Linked DNA regions of Homo sapiens: region 1 is linked to region 2. A link means that fine-mapping ties the variant in region 2 to the expression of a gene that starts in the linked region. Tissue or cell type: whole blood. Region 2 holds a variant in brackets; the other region holds the start of a gene. All regions are shown on one strand. Distances are between the middles of the regions.

Region 1 (8,184 bases), 20 kb before region 2:
TATTTTTAGTAAAGACGGGGTTCCACCAAGTTGGCCAGGCTGGTCTCAAACTCCTGACTTCAGGAAATCCGCCCGCCTTGGCCTCCCCAAGTGCTGGGATTACAGGAGTGAGCCACCGCACCCAGATTGTTTTCTAAGCATTTGTAAGTTTCCTTTTTGTTTGTTTTGAGACGCAGTCCTGCTCTGTCGCCTAGGCTGGAGAGCAGTGGCATGATCTCAGCTCATTGCAACCTCCGCCTCCCGGGTTCAAACAATTCTACTGCCTCAGCCTCCCAGGTAGCTGGGACTACAGGTGTGCGCCACCACGGCTGGCTAAGTTTTTTGTATTTTTGTAGAGACGGGGTTTCACCATGTTGGCCAGGCTGGTCTGGAACTCCTGACCTTAAGTGATCCGTGCGCCTCGGCCTCCCAAAGTCCTGGGATTACAGATATGAGCCACCGCACTCAGCCTGATAAGTTTCTTGTCAACCCAAATTTTCCTTCCCATAGTCTAGAAGTCTGGTCAGTGAAAGTCTGGGAACGAACAGCTTACACTAGGTGAATTAAAATCAATTATTCTCTCTAATCTTACCAGTCACTCAAAGGAAAAATTCCTCCTGCTTTCTAAAAAGCCCAGTTTGTCCTTTAATGTCAGCCTAGAGAATAAATCCTGCTTATAATATAAAGTGGGTTCTGGTAAATAAGAAAGATTATGCAAACAAAAAGAAAACCAGCATTTATCAAGCATTTATTATGTGCCAGGCATTATGCCCATTCTCGTGAAAATTAAGTGAAAGGGCCAGGCGCAGTGGCTCATGCCTGTAATCCCAGCACTTTGGGAGGTTGAGGTGGGTGGATTGCCTGAGGCCAGGAGTTCAAGACCAGCCTGGCCAACATGGTGAAACCCCATCTCTACTAAAAATACAAAAAATTAGCCAAGCATGGCAGTGCACATCTGTAATCTCAACTACTCAGGAGGCTGAGGCACGAGAATCAGTTGAATCTGGGAGGCACAGATTGCAGTGAGCCATGATCACACCATTGTACGCCAGCCTGGGTGACAGAGCGAGACTCTGTCTCAACAACAAAAAAAAAAAAAAAAAAAAAAAAAAAAAGAAGATTAAGTGAGAGGATCCTACAAGGTAAGTATTGTTATAGTCATTTTTACAAATGAAGAAACTAACATTCAAAAGTGGTGATTTGCCAAAGGTAACCCAGCAAATAAATATCGTTATTCAAACTTAATTCCGCTCTCTTCATGTGCTGTACTAAAAAAGTGATTGATGATAAGGTGCCTCTTGGAGGATAAAAAATGCCAGTAGACATGGAAAACACAGAAGGATAACAGGAAAAAGAGGAAAATTAAGAAACTGCTTTAATGGCTCAGTGCAGTTAACTGATGTAAGTATAAAGGTTGTGGAAAACTAAGAAGTGAAGATAGAGAAGATGGGTGAGAGGGGAGGTGTTTTAAAAAGCTTGAAGTAGGCCGGGTGCGGTGGCTCACGCCTGTAATCCCAGCACTTTGGGAGGCCAAGGCAGGCGGATCACGAGGTCAAGAGTTTGAGACCAGCCTGGCCAACACAGTGAAACCCCGTCTCTACTAAATATACAAAAATTAGCTGGGCATAGTGGCACGTGCCTGTAGTCCCAGCTACTTGGGAGGCTGAGGCAGGAAAATCACTTGAACCGGGGAGGCGGAGGTTGTGGCGAGCTGAGATTGCGCCAGCGCACTCCAGCCTGGGCAACACAGCCAGACTCCATCTCAAAAAAAAAAAAACTTCAAGAAAAAGAATATAATCCCACTTCAATATGTATCATATCCTTTAGGAGTCTTAACTCCTAAAGTTGGAAGTAATGAGCTATTTGACCTTATTTAACAGTTCAATCAATGCCACTTTATGTGATTAGGTTTCTCTGTGTAATCTACTGATTTCTTCTTTCAGTCAACATTTACAGGGTGCCCAAAGTGTACCAGATACTGTGCTAGACCCTGGGAATATAAAGTTAAAAAGATCTCAAGTTGTTCACAGTCTAGCCTGGAGAAAAAAGGAGACTAAACAATCCATTGTACAATCCACTGTAATCCATTACAATACAAAATGAAGAGCCCTGGAATAGAGATAAGAATAAAGTGCTATGCAGGAACAGAAAACCAAACACCACATGTTCTCACTCACAAGTGGGAGTTGAACAGTGAGAACGCATGGGCACAGGGAGGGGAACAACACACACTGGGGCCTCTCGGGGGAGGGGCGAGGATGACAGGTTGATAGGTGCAGCAAACCACCATGGCACATGCATACCTATGTAACAAACCTGCACATTCTGCACATGTATCCCAGAACTTAAAGTAAAAAAGAAAAAGAAAAAGGTGCTATGGAAGCACACAGGGTGCATATCTAAACCAGAATGGAAGGGTCACATAGGGCCTCCCAAAGAAGGTGATGTTTAAGTGACTCATATAGTACCTGTAACTACCATCTAAAAGCATGTTGATTTCTACTTAGGGTCAGTTTGGGGTCCAACTAAAAGCTTATTAAAAACAGAACTGCTACCTCTTTGCCAAAGGTGCAACCCACAGGGCCCAGCGCACAGGTCAGCAAGCATAAAAATATTGATTCATGATGAATAAAACGCCAGTAAGGGGCAAAATAACAGACATAAGGAGAGGGTAACTTTTCAGCCAAGGTAATGATAAATGCCAGGAGGAAAAATCACAATGATGATGTGGGTCAGAGAGAAGAATAAGAACAGTATCTTGGCCAGGTGCAGTGGCCCACACCTGTAATTTCAACACTTTGGGAGGCTGTGGCAGGAGAATCACTTAAGGCCAGGAGTTCGAGACCAGCCTGGGAAATATATCAAGATCCTGTCTACACAAAAAAATTTAAAAATTAGCCAGGCATTGTGAGGCAATGCCTGTAGCCCTAGCAACTTGGGAGGCTGAGGTAGGAGGATCCCTTGTGCCCAGGAGTACACAGCTGCCGTGAGCTGTGATTGCACCACTTGCACTCCAGCCTGGATGATAGAACGAGACCCTGCCTCTCTAACAAAAAAAAAAAAAAAAAAAAACGACGGCTGGGCGTGGTGTCACGCCTGTAATCCCAGTACTATGGGAGGCCAAGGTGGGCAGATCACAAGGTCAGGAGTTCAAGACCAGCCTGGCCAACTTGGTGAAACCCCATCTCTACTCAAAATACAAAAATTAGCCAGGTGTGGTGGTGCATGCGTGTAATCCCAACTATTCAGGAAGCTGAAGCAGGAGAATCGCTTGAACCCAGGAGGCGGAGGTTGCAGTGAGCTGAGATTGAGCCATTGCGCTCCGGCCTGGGCAACAAAGTGAGACTACATCTCAAAAAAAAAAAAAAAAAAAAAAAAAAGAACAAACAAATAGTATTTGTAACTGCTTTATTGCATTTCCTACATTCTTTCACATCCATTATATGATTTAATTTTACTCTCCCAAAAACCCTTGTTAAGCACATTATAAGAGCGCAGGTATCATCACTAACAGGTTTTTTTTTCTATTTTACAGATGAGAAAATTGAGGCTTGGAAAGGGCTCACACTCATATGGTTTAACATGAAGCCCAGTGAACTGTCTTTCAACTACATAATGTCCTATAGCATCCTCAGAACCTCACAGTCATTGGATTACAAGGTAGGTAGTTAGGCCCAACAGAGAAAAATGCTGCCTCAACTTTGGAGGGAAAAGGTGTAGGAGAGGTTAAGAAGGGAGGTAGGGAAGGAAGACAGAAAATACTATATAATCATCAAGAAAATACAATGAGAAGAAACAGAATGAACAACCGTTGTAAAGCTTATGATCATAACCTTTGCTCACTGGTAAAACTGCTGAAGGAAAAACCGAATGGTGGATGATGACAGTTGGTGACGAAATTGACAACAGTACAAAAAATAAATCAGATAATCCAGAGTGGCAAGCAACACGATTACCCATAAATGTGCATGGGGAACTGGAAAGGTGTGTGTGTGTGTGTGTGTGTGTGTGTGTGTGTGTGTGTGTGAGAGAGAGAGAGAGAGAAAGGATGAGGATGATAAGCTGAAGGACGCAGGGAAGAGCGAATGAAAGGGGACTGGCAATGGAGCAAGCACGACTGAAAGTGCATGATGGGGAGCAGATGGGTGCCCCAGGGGATTACGGGAGAGGCAGAGTGGAATAACGCAGAGTGGTAATTTAATAAAAAACAAAACAAAAAAAAAAACGGCAGAAATATGGTGATGACAGTCCAGAGTGGAGATGGAGCAGGTGGTCAGGGAGATGACAACCCAGGTAGGGAGGCTAGCAAGGTGACAATACAGAGGTAGTAGTGGCAGGGACGGACAGCGTGCTAGCTGAGAAGGAAGCTGTCATCTGCGACAGAGTACGCGTGTGCGGCAGCGCCTCGGGGTTAGTACCTGTAACCGCGGTTGGAGGCCCGGGGCGGAATCCGGTAGACGCTGACGTCTGGCTTCACACACAGCACAGACTCGTACTCCAACTCGGTCGCCATCTTGGGTCCGCTGTCGGCGCTGCCGGGGGCGAAACGTAAGACCGGAGGCGGAGCACGGGAGGCGGAGATGCAAAGCGCGACAACTTCTGTTGCGTCACTTCCGCGCGAGTTCAAGTTAGTTTCTGAGATTAACCTTTTCGGTGACGCGGGGAGCCATATTGAAACCTGGAAACGATGAGGCTGCACGGCTCACCGTCTTGGATAATGGCAAAGATGGCCTGCAAGTGCGTGACTCTCGTTATGGAAATCTCTGTCCTGGAGAGGTGCTTACGAAAAGCGCCATCTTACTCTAGGCAGGTGCCTGGAGTGTCCTACGAGGACGAGGACCATATTGAATCGTGACGGATTTTCTTACAGGAGTCACTTCCTAACTGTAGTCTCCTGGCAGAAAAGAGGCAACCTCCAGCCGGTAGTCCCAGACGAGGTACCTGCAGAGAATGATGTATGATCTGGTCATAGACACCGTGGATTTCAACTCTCCAGAGTCTAAACGCTGAAAACACCCAACTTGATTTAGTGCCTTACACTCTTTATCTCCGATTTTTCAGGACGACACCTGTTAAAATGTTTTGCCACACTTTCGGCGTGTATTCCGATTATCTTTTTGGAAAATTTGATCCTGTTAAATAGACTATACGTGGGATCAACCCAATTCCTGATAAAATCGGAAGCATAATGAACTATCTAATGGCCTATATTAGCTCCCAGTTCTATTATAATGATAAATGCTACCGAACTCTCACCATAAATATGCTTTTTCTGCGCCCCAAAGGTAAACTTAACCACAACACCCTGACAGTACAGATAGCAAGTGGCAAAACTGAGACAGAAACTCAAGCCTGCCTCATTACAACAGCAGCAGTCTTCACCGCTGCTGGAGCTGGCAAGGTCACCAAGTCTGCCCAGAAAGCTCAGAAGGCTAGATGAATATCATCCCTAATACCTGCCACCCCACTCTTAATCAGTGGTGGAAGAACGGTCTCAGAACTGTTTGTTTCAACTGGCCATTTAAGTTCAGTAGTAAAAGACTGGTTAATGAAAACAATGCATCGTAAAACCTTCAGAAGGAAAGGAGAATGTTTTGTGGACCACTGGTTTTCTTCTTCAGAAGGAAAGGAGAATGTTTTGTGGACCACTGGTTTTCTTTTTTGCGTGTGGCAGTTTTAAGTTATTAGTTTTTTAAATCAGTACTTTTTAATGGAAACATCCAAAAATTTGTCACAGAATTTTGAGACCCATTAAAAAAGTTTAATGAGAAAAAAAAAAAAAGCAAACCTGCCTCTAATTTGTCTGCTCCACCTTGGAAAGTGATATCTTAAATTTCAAAAAGAATTACCACATTTATCCCTGGCGAGGACGTGAGGAACAGTCTAATCTCATACACTGTTGGCAGGAATGTAAATTGGCACGGCATTTTTAAAAGGGAAATTAACAGAATTTATCAAAATATTAATTGGACGTAATCTTCAATTTAGCAGTTTCACTAATAAATATTGTAGAGAAATCCTTATATGCACAAAAAAGTATGTACAATAATACTACAGCATTGTTTGTAATAGTGAAAAAAATGGAAACAAAATGACCATCTATCAATGGGAAATGGTTAATGGTATATCTATTACTATGAGATGTTTTGAACTAAAGGGTTAGCCATTGAAAGAGATCCAAGATTTTTTAAAGCCAACTGCAAAAAACATACAGCATTATCAACTTTTGTCGAAACACCCCAAAATTATATATGCATGCATGTAAATGCATTGAGAAGGCTTTCAAAGGATATAAGGCTAAGTGGGGGAAAGAAACTTATTTTCTCCTCCATATATTTCTCTGTTGTTTAAGATTTATATAGCTATTATTGTCACTGAATACATGTTAAAAGAAAAATAAAGACAGAAAAGTGGTTTATTACTTGTTGTTCCTTATTTCTGACCCTATGATCTCATCTGAAGCCTAGGTCATATGACTACACCACATTGTACCTCTTTTTTTTTCTCTGTTCTGTGTTATCACTGGCAATCATTTTTGGAGGATTCTGGCTTCTGGTTCACCTTCTTACTAGTTTATACTCTTCCTCTTCTCCCAAATCTTTTAGAGATTTCAAAGCCCATATAGTTAACTCTTCCTAGCCATACAATCTCTTGACATAAATTCTAACTATCTTTACCTCTCTTTTCTACCTCACCTGTTCTTCTTCATGTTCTGCACATTGTTAGCCTTCTCTTTATTCCTCCCATCTCCTTGTTTCAACAGTTCTCTTGCCAGCATCCTTAAGTTTCCTTTCCTCTTTGTCTTTCCATCACAGCCAACCCAAAAGACTCCAGTCTTATATATTCCAACCATCTCCCTCCATCATTCTCCAAAAGCAAATCACACAATTATAAAGATTGGTGTCCCTAAAAGTTTATGGGTTTGAGTCTCAGCTTTGCCCTTAACACCCAGATTTGCCATTGCTAGTTTTTATTTTCATTCCCTTTAATGGTTGTTCCAAATTTTGCTGCCCTTTCAGGCCTTCAACTCTAAGTCTTCTCTTTTTCTTTCTTGACAGGTAAAACATCTTACTACTTCCCTAAGAAAATAAAGTTTGTGTGAACTCTCTCAACTTAATGACACCCTATTCATACTCCTATCTGCATCTTCATCTATTCTTTCTCCTATCCACTTGTGTGTGCCCTGGATTCTCCTCAGGGACCAATCTCCTCAGGGACCTGGTTAATCAGTTATCTCCTTTCTTTCCTGTATCTTAAAACTCATTTTCCATTCACCCCTTTCCCTCACCATGTAAGTATATTCAAGTCCTTTCACCTAAAAAAAAAAAAAAAAAAAAACCCTTACTTAACCATGTTTTTTCTTTATATAAATTTAAATTTCCCTTCTCTTGCTTCATCTCAACAGAAACAGAAAAAAATACAGTCTTCCTCACTCTCACCCACGATGTCTTCTCTAGCTTAACTGATCACATTGCCATAATTTTCCATACATGCCATTTTTATTCATGCTGAACATATTTGTCCAGACTGAAATGCACTTCCCGTTCATTCCTTGGTAAGATGCCTTTAGATCTAATCTAAATATCAATTTATCTCAGAAGTTTTCCTCAACTTCTCTAAATAGAACTGGTAACTGCCTCCTCTATGCTCCCACAACATTTGTACAGCTGTTTTAGTTCTTAGCACATTGCATTCAACTGCTTGTTGGCATCTCTGTTTTCCAAGGGAAAGAAACAGGTTTGTGTTTTCCCAGTATCTAGCACAGTTTTCAGACTATAGTAAGAACTCTGTATGTTTATTTGCTAAATGAATGATCATTTCAGCCTGCCTTAACAGGGATGATTTGTTCTTTCCCAATCAAAATAATTAAAAATGTCTTGGGCCGGCACAGTGGCTCACGCCTGTAACCTCAGCACCTTGGGAGGCTGAGGCAGGCAGATCACTTGAGGTCAGGAGTTCAAGACCAGCCTGGCTAACATGTTGAAACCCTGTCTCTACTGAAAATACAAAAACTAGCTGGTCATAGTGGTGCATGCCTGTAATGCCAGCTACTTGGGAGGCTAAGGCAGGAGAATTGCTTGAACCCAGGAGACGGAGGTTGCAGTGAGTCAAGATCATGCCACTGCACTCCAGCCTGGGCTACTGAATGAGACTCCGTATCAAAAAAAAATAAACTAAAATAAAAAAATTAAAAATGTCTTGTCT
Region 2 (8,154 bases):
ATTAATTAAATGAGTTTATTCAGGTCATTCCTCCCCAACCACTCCCCACTCCAACCCTCACATCTCATAGAGTCTTTTTTTTTTCATTTCTAAACAAAACCTATAAAGTTGAACCCTATGTACAGAGGTACCCTCTCTCTAACCATTCTCTGTGTGCTGCAGAAAATGTCTCAGGATTATAAACTCCTACTTCTGTTTTCCTGCTTTGCCTTTCTAAGCCATTTAGAAATGACTCACTTTGAAACTCTTCCTGTGAGGTCAGATAGTGGTCTAGAGCATAAGACTTAACTTATTGCCGGAAACAGAGAGAGAACAGAAGAAGAGAAAGCTCAGCAAATTTTCTTGCCATACTTCATGACTTCACTGTGGCTAAGTGTGGGGACCAGACAGGACTCGTGGAGACATCCAGGTGCTGAAGCCTTCAGCTACTGTCTCAGTTTTTTGGTAAGAAAACCTAGACCTACCTGATGACTTGTGCTTAGCCTGTTTTGCTCATTATAGGTAATGAGTTTGAGTGTCACTATCTTCTATTTCCCCTATTCCTTCTCTGACTTTGAATTCTTTTATCTTATCTCTATGTCTAACTTCCTTTTTCTAAATATTCCACATTGCATTTGTCTTTGCTTTTAATATTTTCATAGTGGAATTAATAGTGAATTTTTACATCATTTCTTTCCTTTCTTTGAATTGGCTATGTATTTCACCCTGAACTTTGATTCCAGCTGTCCCCATTAATTTGTTTTTCAAATAATTGATTGCACTTTTTTTCCCTTTCCATTTCCTCTTTCTTTTTTTTATTCTTTTGCCCATTCCTTATTGCTACTGACTCTGTTATCCTATTACTACAATTTGATTCTGGGGTCCACTTTTCTTTCTCTATCACAGTGGAATTTTAGTTTCAGGATATTAATTACCTTTAAATTACGGCTGGTCAACTTAGTAATAATTTTTTTTAATCCTCTACTAATCTTAAACACATAAAGGTATGGTATTTTTAGCCAAATTAACTTGAAGAAATGTAAAAAGTAATCTTGCTCTGCAGGACTTTTTTTTTTTTTTTTTTTTTTTGAGACAGAGTCTCACTCTGTTGCCCAGGCTGGAGTACAGTAGCATGATCTCAGCTCACTGCAACCTCCGCCTCCCAGGTTCAAGCGATTCTCCTGCCTCAGCCTCCTGAGTAGGTGGGATTGCAGGCACGTGCTACCACACCCAGTTAAATTTTTTTGTATTTTTAGTAGAGACAGGGTTCCACCATGTTGGCCAGGTTGGTCTCAAACTCCTGACCTCAGGTGATCTACCCGCCTCTGCCTCCCAAAGTGCTGGGATTACAGGCGTGAGCCACCACACCCAGCCTTGTTCTAAAGGACTTTTAATCCCTGACTCCTACATACTTTCATTTCAAAACAGATAATAACAATATTTAACATATAGCTCATGACAGATAACTCTATTTTTATTAAAATTTTGCTGTTTGCAGTCCCTGCTACTTCAGTTCATGCAGTTCTCGGCAGCTTCCCCTTTATTAGCAATACCATATATCTTTTTTTTTTTAATGTGATTTTTTTTTTTTTTTGGTAGTAAAAACAGCATTTGCCTAACAGTCCTCGGACCTGAAATCCAAGAACCTCCCTAGTAATGATTATATGCTTGTAATCTAATTTGCTGAGTTTCACTGTCAAACTTGAGAAATAAAAGCAGAGAAAACGTAGGCTGGGCACAGTGGCTCATGTCTGTAACCCCAGCACACTGTGAGGCCAACATGGGAGGATTGCTTGAGTCCAGGAGTTTGAGAGCAGCTTGGGCAACATAGCAAGACCCTATCTCTACAAACAAACAAACAAACAAACAACAACAACAACAACAAAATGAGGAGAGGAGAGATGATTACCAAGTTTTCTTTCAGCCCTAGCATCCCATGACTCTATTCTTCTCTCAATATTTTAGGGGGGTACCGTGATAGTATTTAAATATCTGAGTAGACAAGGCCATGGAAAGGGGAATGAGAATAATTTCTTCTTCTTTTTTTTTTTTTGAGATGGAGTTTTGCTTTTGTTGCCCAGGCTGGAGTGTAGTGGCGCAACCTCGGCTCACCACAACCTCTGCCTCCCAGGTTCAAGCGATTCTCCTGCCTCAGCCTCCTGAGTAGCTGGGATTACAGGCATGTGCCACCATGCCCACCTAATTTTGTATTTTTAGTAGAGACAGAGTTTCTCCATGTTGGATAGGCTGGTCTCAAACTGACCTCAGGTGATCTGCCTGCCTTGGCTTCCCAAAGTGCTGGGATAACAGGTGTGAGCCACTGTGCCCAGCCCATGTCTTCTTTTTTATTATTTTGTTGACTTGCTATTTTAACTTCTGCTAATCATATGAGGCCCTATGGCAATATTTGGCTGACTCAGCAGAACTACTTTCAAGTCACAAAAATATTTTGAGCCTCTATAAAAGTAAAATGTTATTTTATCCAGTAAAAATTAGGAATTTCACAAAAAGAAAGTTAAAAGGGACAGCATGGGAATTAAGGAAGAGGCCTGGGTAAGGATTACATGGATACAAATTAGAATTTTAGATGTAATTGCAAAAGAAAAAAAAAGTCAACCCCCAAAATGGGCATCCATCTATTCAAGTAATTTTTTTTTTCTTTTTTTTTCTTTTGAGACAGAGTCTCTTTGTCATGCAGGCTGGAGTGCAGTGGTGCAATCTCAGCTCACTGCAACCTCCACCTCTCCAGTTCAAGCGATTCTCGTGCCTCAGCCTCCCAAGTAGCTGGGATTACAAGTGTGAGCTACCACACCCAGCTAATTTTTGTATTTTTGGTAGAGATGGGATTTTGCCATGTTAGCCAGGCTGGTCTTGAACTCCTAGCCCCAAGCGATCTTCTCCCCTCGGCCCCCCAAAGTGCTGCGATTACAGGCATGAGCCACTGCGCCCAGCCTTTCCACATAATCTTTAACCTTGGTGTCTCATAAGGCATTATGTTAAATTATGTGAAATGAGCATTTATGAATAAGACTCCTTTTTACCATCATAAAGTTTAAATCCAGAATAATAGATTAGACAGCCATTATAATTATTGTACAAGATAAAATGTGTCATTGCATATAGAATATGAAAAAAAGGTTCAAACATGCGCACACACACAAATTAAGAAGCTGAAGACTTGGTGAAGGGCATAATTCCAGATAGAAGTAAACAGCATTAGCCATGGAACGGAAAATGGCATTAAGTTGGAATAGTGAATTGTTCAGGAAAGCTATAAAGCAGGGTACATTTACGAGCATGTTCACAGTTAGGGGAAGGTAATATCACAGAGGCCAAGAGAAGAGAGTGTTAAGAAGTCAGTGTATCTAATGACACATATTGTGGAAGGTGACTGAGAAACAAACGTTTGGATTTGGTTTTTAGAAGTAATTTTAGCAGAATTATGGAAGCAGAAGATACATTACAAAGAATTAAGAAGTTGGTGGCCGGCCGGGCCTGGTGGCTCACATCTGTAATCCCGGGACTTTGGGAGGCCGAGGCGGGCGGATCACCAGGTCAGGAAATCAAGATCATCCTGGCTAACATGGTGAAACCCCGTCTCTACTAAAAATACAAAAATTAGCCGGGCGTGGTGGTACACGCCTGTAATCCCAGCTCCTCGGGAGGCTGAGGCAGAAGAATTGCTTAAACCCGGGATGCGGAGGCTGTAGTGAGCCGAGATCGCACCATTGCACTCCAGCCTGGGAGACAGAGCGAGACTCCATCACAAAAAAAAAAAAAAAAAAAAAAAAAAGGGCCGGGCGCGGTGGCTCACGCCTGTAATCCCAACACTTTGGGAGGCCGAGGCGGGCGGATCGCCTGAGGTCGGGAGATCAACATCATCCTGGCCAACATGGAGAAACCCCGTTCTCTACTAAAAATACAAAAAAAAATTAGCCGGGCATGGTGGCGCATGCCTGTAATCCCAGCTACTGGGAGGCTGAGGCAGGAGAATCACTTGAACCCGGGAGGAGGAGGTTGCAGTGAGCCAAGATCGCGCCACTGCACTCCAGCGTGGGCAACAAGAGCGAAACTCCATCTCAAGAAAAAAGAAAAAAAGAAGAAGTTAGTGTTCAGAACAGTAGGCGTAGGCCCCAAAACAAAGCAGTATCCTTGAAAAAGAGAAATTATGCTAAATTAAGAGACTTAAGAAGAAAGTGCGATCTGAAGTAGATATTGTCGTGGACAAGCCAGCTATAAAAGATGTCTTAGGGACAGTTGAAAAATAATCATATAAAAGGGGGGGCATGGTGGTTCGTGCCTGTAATCTCAGCACTTCGGGAGGCCGAGGAAGAATCAGTAGAGCCCAGGAGTTGGAGACCAGCCTGAGCAACATAGCAAGACCCCATCTTTACAAACAGAAACAAAACAGATAAAGGTCGGGTATTCCTTATGGTACATATTGTATAATGTGGAGACTGCTAACTGAAAAAAGAAAAAAAT[G/T]TATAAAAAATATGTATTTACACCCATGTTCATTGATGCATAATTCACAATAGTCAAAAGGTGAAAGCAATCCAGATGTCCTCTGTGGAATGACTGGATAAACAAAATGAAGTATAGACCTACAATGGAATATTATTCAGCCTTAAAAAGAAAGAAAATTCTGACCCATGCCACAACGCGGAGGAAGCTTGAAGACATTATGCTAAGTGAAATACACCAGACACAAAAAGACAAATACTGTGTGATTCCACTTAGATCAGATATCTAAAGTAGTCGAATTCATAGAAATTGAAAGTACAATGGTGATTGCCAGGGGCTGAGAAAAGGAGAAAATGGGGAATTCTTTCCTGAGCACATTTTCAGTTTTGTAAGATGAAAAAGTTCTGAAAATTGGTTGTACAACGTGAATATGGTAAACACTACTGAACTGTGTACTTAAAAATGGTGAAGATGGTAAATGTTATGATACATGTGTTTGGCAATTAAAATTTTTTTGTTAGGGCCAGGCGCGGTGGCTCGCACCTGTAATCCCAGCACTTTGGGAGGGAGAGGAGGGAGGATCACTCGAGCCTAGCAGTTCAAGAGTAGCCTGGCCAACATGGCAAAACCTGTCTCTGCTAAAAATACAAAAATTAGTTGGTACGTTGGTGGGCAACTGCAGTCCCAGCTACTCAGGAGGCTGAGGCACGATAATTGCTTGAACCCGGGAGGCAGAGGCTGCAGTGAGCCGAGATTGTATCACTGCACTCCAGCCTGAATGACGGAGGGAGATTCTGTCTCAAAAATAATAATAATAATAATAATAAATAAATAAATGAAGCACTGTCCCACATATTAGAAGGCTTCTAGCCATCACAGCCCCTGCTGTCTAAAGATACGCATGTGTATACCTAAATGCACACACACACATAAAAAAAGGTCAAGAGGATATAAATTCAGGTGCTAAAATAATAATCACTGACTAGTGAGTATATTTTTATTTTCTTTTTTGTTTGTCTATATTTTCCAATTTTCTTCATGCATATTTTTTGCTTTTGTAATAATAAAGCTCTTTTCCCAAGTTACGGTCATAAAACACAAATAAATAAGAAAGAAATGATAGGTAGTGAGGAAGTCAATGCAGAGGGCCAACAACTCTTGGAAAATTTGAAAGCAAAAGGAGATGGAGTTGTATCTAAAAGACATCGCTGAGTCTAGAGTACCTCTTTCTGTGGCGGCGAGTCCTCTGAAAATCTGGTGGGGAGAGTGGATGAAGCTTCTGCCCTCAGAGAAATGAGAATATGTAAAGTTGAAGTTTTGCATATCATTTTAGGTGGTGATGGAACTTCCTAAAACCCTTTCGTGACCTCAGGTTGGAGACCTCCAGTCCAGATATTTTTGTGTGTTTACTTATTTAGCTTATTTGTTTATTTTTAAACACACTGGGTGAAGAAAGGAGCCAGTGGAAAAACCAAGATTGAAAGTACAAGAAAGAGGAGAAATTTACACTAATATGGACTTCCAGATGAGGCTGTGATTTTGATACACACATAAATCAATACAGTAGATTTTAAATTGTCTATCATAGGATGGGCATGGTGGCTCATGCCTATAATCCCAGCACTTTGGGAGGCCAAGGCAGGCAGATCACCCGAGGTCAGGAGTTCAAGACCAGCCTGGCCAACATGGCAAAACCCCGTCTCTACTAAAAATACAAAAATTAGCCAGGCGTGGTGGTGCACGCCTGTAATCCCAGCTACTCTGGAGGCTGAGGCAGGAGAATCGCTTGAACTCGGGAGGCGGAGCTTACAGTGAGCTGAAATCAATCCACTGCACTCCAGCCTGCGCGACAGAGGAAGACTCTGTCTGAAAAATAATTAATAAATTAATAAATAAATATAATTGTCTATCAGAGAATGCTTTTATGTGGTCCCGTGTGAGGTGAAGGAAGGCAAACTAAAACAGCGTGAGGACCTTCTGGTTTCATGATCCCACATCTTTATGTGGGAAGATTAGAATCCTAAGAATATGTATGCATTTTCAAAAAGATACTGTTTGTTTTAACATTTTTTTCATCTTTTTGCAGAAGTTTAGCAATGGCGTCTTTCTCTGCTGAGACCAATTCAACTGACCTACTCTCACAGCCATGGAATGAGCCCCCAGTAATTCTCTCCATGGTCATTCTCAGCCTTACTTTTTTACTGGGATTGCCAGGCAATGGGCTGGTGCTGTGGGTGGCTGGCCTGAAGATGCAGCGGACAGTGAACACAATTTGGTTCCTCCACCTCACCTTGGCGGACCTCCTCTGCTGCCTCTCCTTGCCCTTCTCGCTGGCTCACTTGGCTCTCCAGGGACAGTGGCCCTACGGCAGGTTCCTATGCAAGCTCATCCCCTCCATCATTGTCCTCAACATGTTTGCCAGTGTCTTCCTGCTTACTGCCATTAGCCTGGATCGCTGTCTTGTGGTATTCAAGCCAATCTGGTGTCAGAATCATCGCAATGTAGGGATGGCCTGCTCTATCTGTGGATGTATCTGGGTGGTGGCTTTTGTGATGTGCATTCCTGTGTTCGTGTACCGGGAAATCTTCACTACAGACAACCATAATAGATGTGGCTACAAATTTGGTCTCTCCAGCTCATTAGATTATCCAGACTTTTATGGAGATCCACTAGAAAACAGGTCTCTTGAAAACATTGTTCAGCCGCCTGGAGAAATGAATGATAGGTTAGATCCTTCCTCTTTCCAAACAAATGATCATCCTTGGACAGTCCCCACTGTCTTCCAACCTCAAACATTTCAAAGACCTTCTGCAGATTCACTCCCTAGGGGTTCTGCTAGGTTAACAAGTCAAAATCTGTATTCTAATGTATTTAAACCTGCTGATGTGGTCTCACCTAAAATCCCCAGTGGGTTTCCTATTGAAGATCACGAAACCAGCCCACTGGATAACTCTGATGCTTTTCTCTCTACTCATTTAAAGCTGTTCCCTAGCGCTTCTAGCAATTCCTTCTACGAGTCTGAGCTACCACAAGGTTTCCAGGATTATTACAATTTAGGCCAATTCACAGATGACGATCAAGTGCCAACACCCCTCGTGGCAATAACGATCACTAGGCTAGTGGTGGGTTTCCTGCTGCCCTCTGTTATCATGATAGCCTGTTACAGCTTCATTGTCTTCCGAATGCAAAGGGGCCGCTTCGCCAAGTCTCAGAGCAAAACCTTTCGAGTGGCCGTGGTGGTGGTGGCTGTCTTTCTTGTCTGCTGGACTCCATACCACATTTTTGGAGTCCTGTCATTGCTTACTGACCCAGAAACTCCCTTGGGGAAAACTCTGATGTCCTGGGATCATGTATGCATTGCTCTAGCATCTGCCAATAGTTGCTTTAATCCCTTCCTTTATGCCCTCTTGGGGAAAGATTTTAGGAAGAAAGCAAGGCAGTCCATTCAGGGAATTCTGGAGGCAGCCTTCAGTGAGGAGCTCACACGTTCCACCCACTGTCCCTCAAACAATGTCATTTCAGAAAGAAATAGTACAACTGTGTGAAAATGTGGAGCAGCCAACAAGCAGGGGCTCTTAGGCAATCACATAGTGAAAGTTTATAAGAGGATGAAGTGATATGGTGAGCAGCGGACTTCAAAAACTGTCAAAGAATCAATCCAGCGGTTCTCAAACGGTACACAGACTATTGACATCAGCATCACCTAGAAACTTG

What was found. PIP is the estimated chance that this variant, and not a neighbour inherited with it, causes the effect.
Region 1: NECAP1 starts here. The variant in region 2 is fine-mapped to the expression of NECAP1 in whole blood (INTERVAL, PIP above 0.99).

The regions. Positions count from the first base shown.
Region 1 is chr12:8,078,597-8,086,780 of GRCh38, reverse strand. NECAP1 (NECAP endocytosis associated 1) reads right to left here and starts at 4,507. Exons shown (of 8, transcript NM_015509.4): 1 at 4,398-4,507. The coding sequence starts at 4,492. RefSeq lists enhancers at 4,265-4,324, 4,395-4,614, 4,046-5,245.
Region 2 is chr12:8,058,568-8,066,721 of GRCh38, reverse strand. It overlaps C3AR1 (complement C3a receptor 1), which reads left to right and starts at 363. Exons shown (of 2, transcript NM_004054.4): 1 at 363-444; 2 at 6,527-8,154. The coding sequence starts at 6,537. The coding sequence ends at 7,985. The variant G/T (reference allele first, on the strand shown) is at 4,462.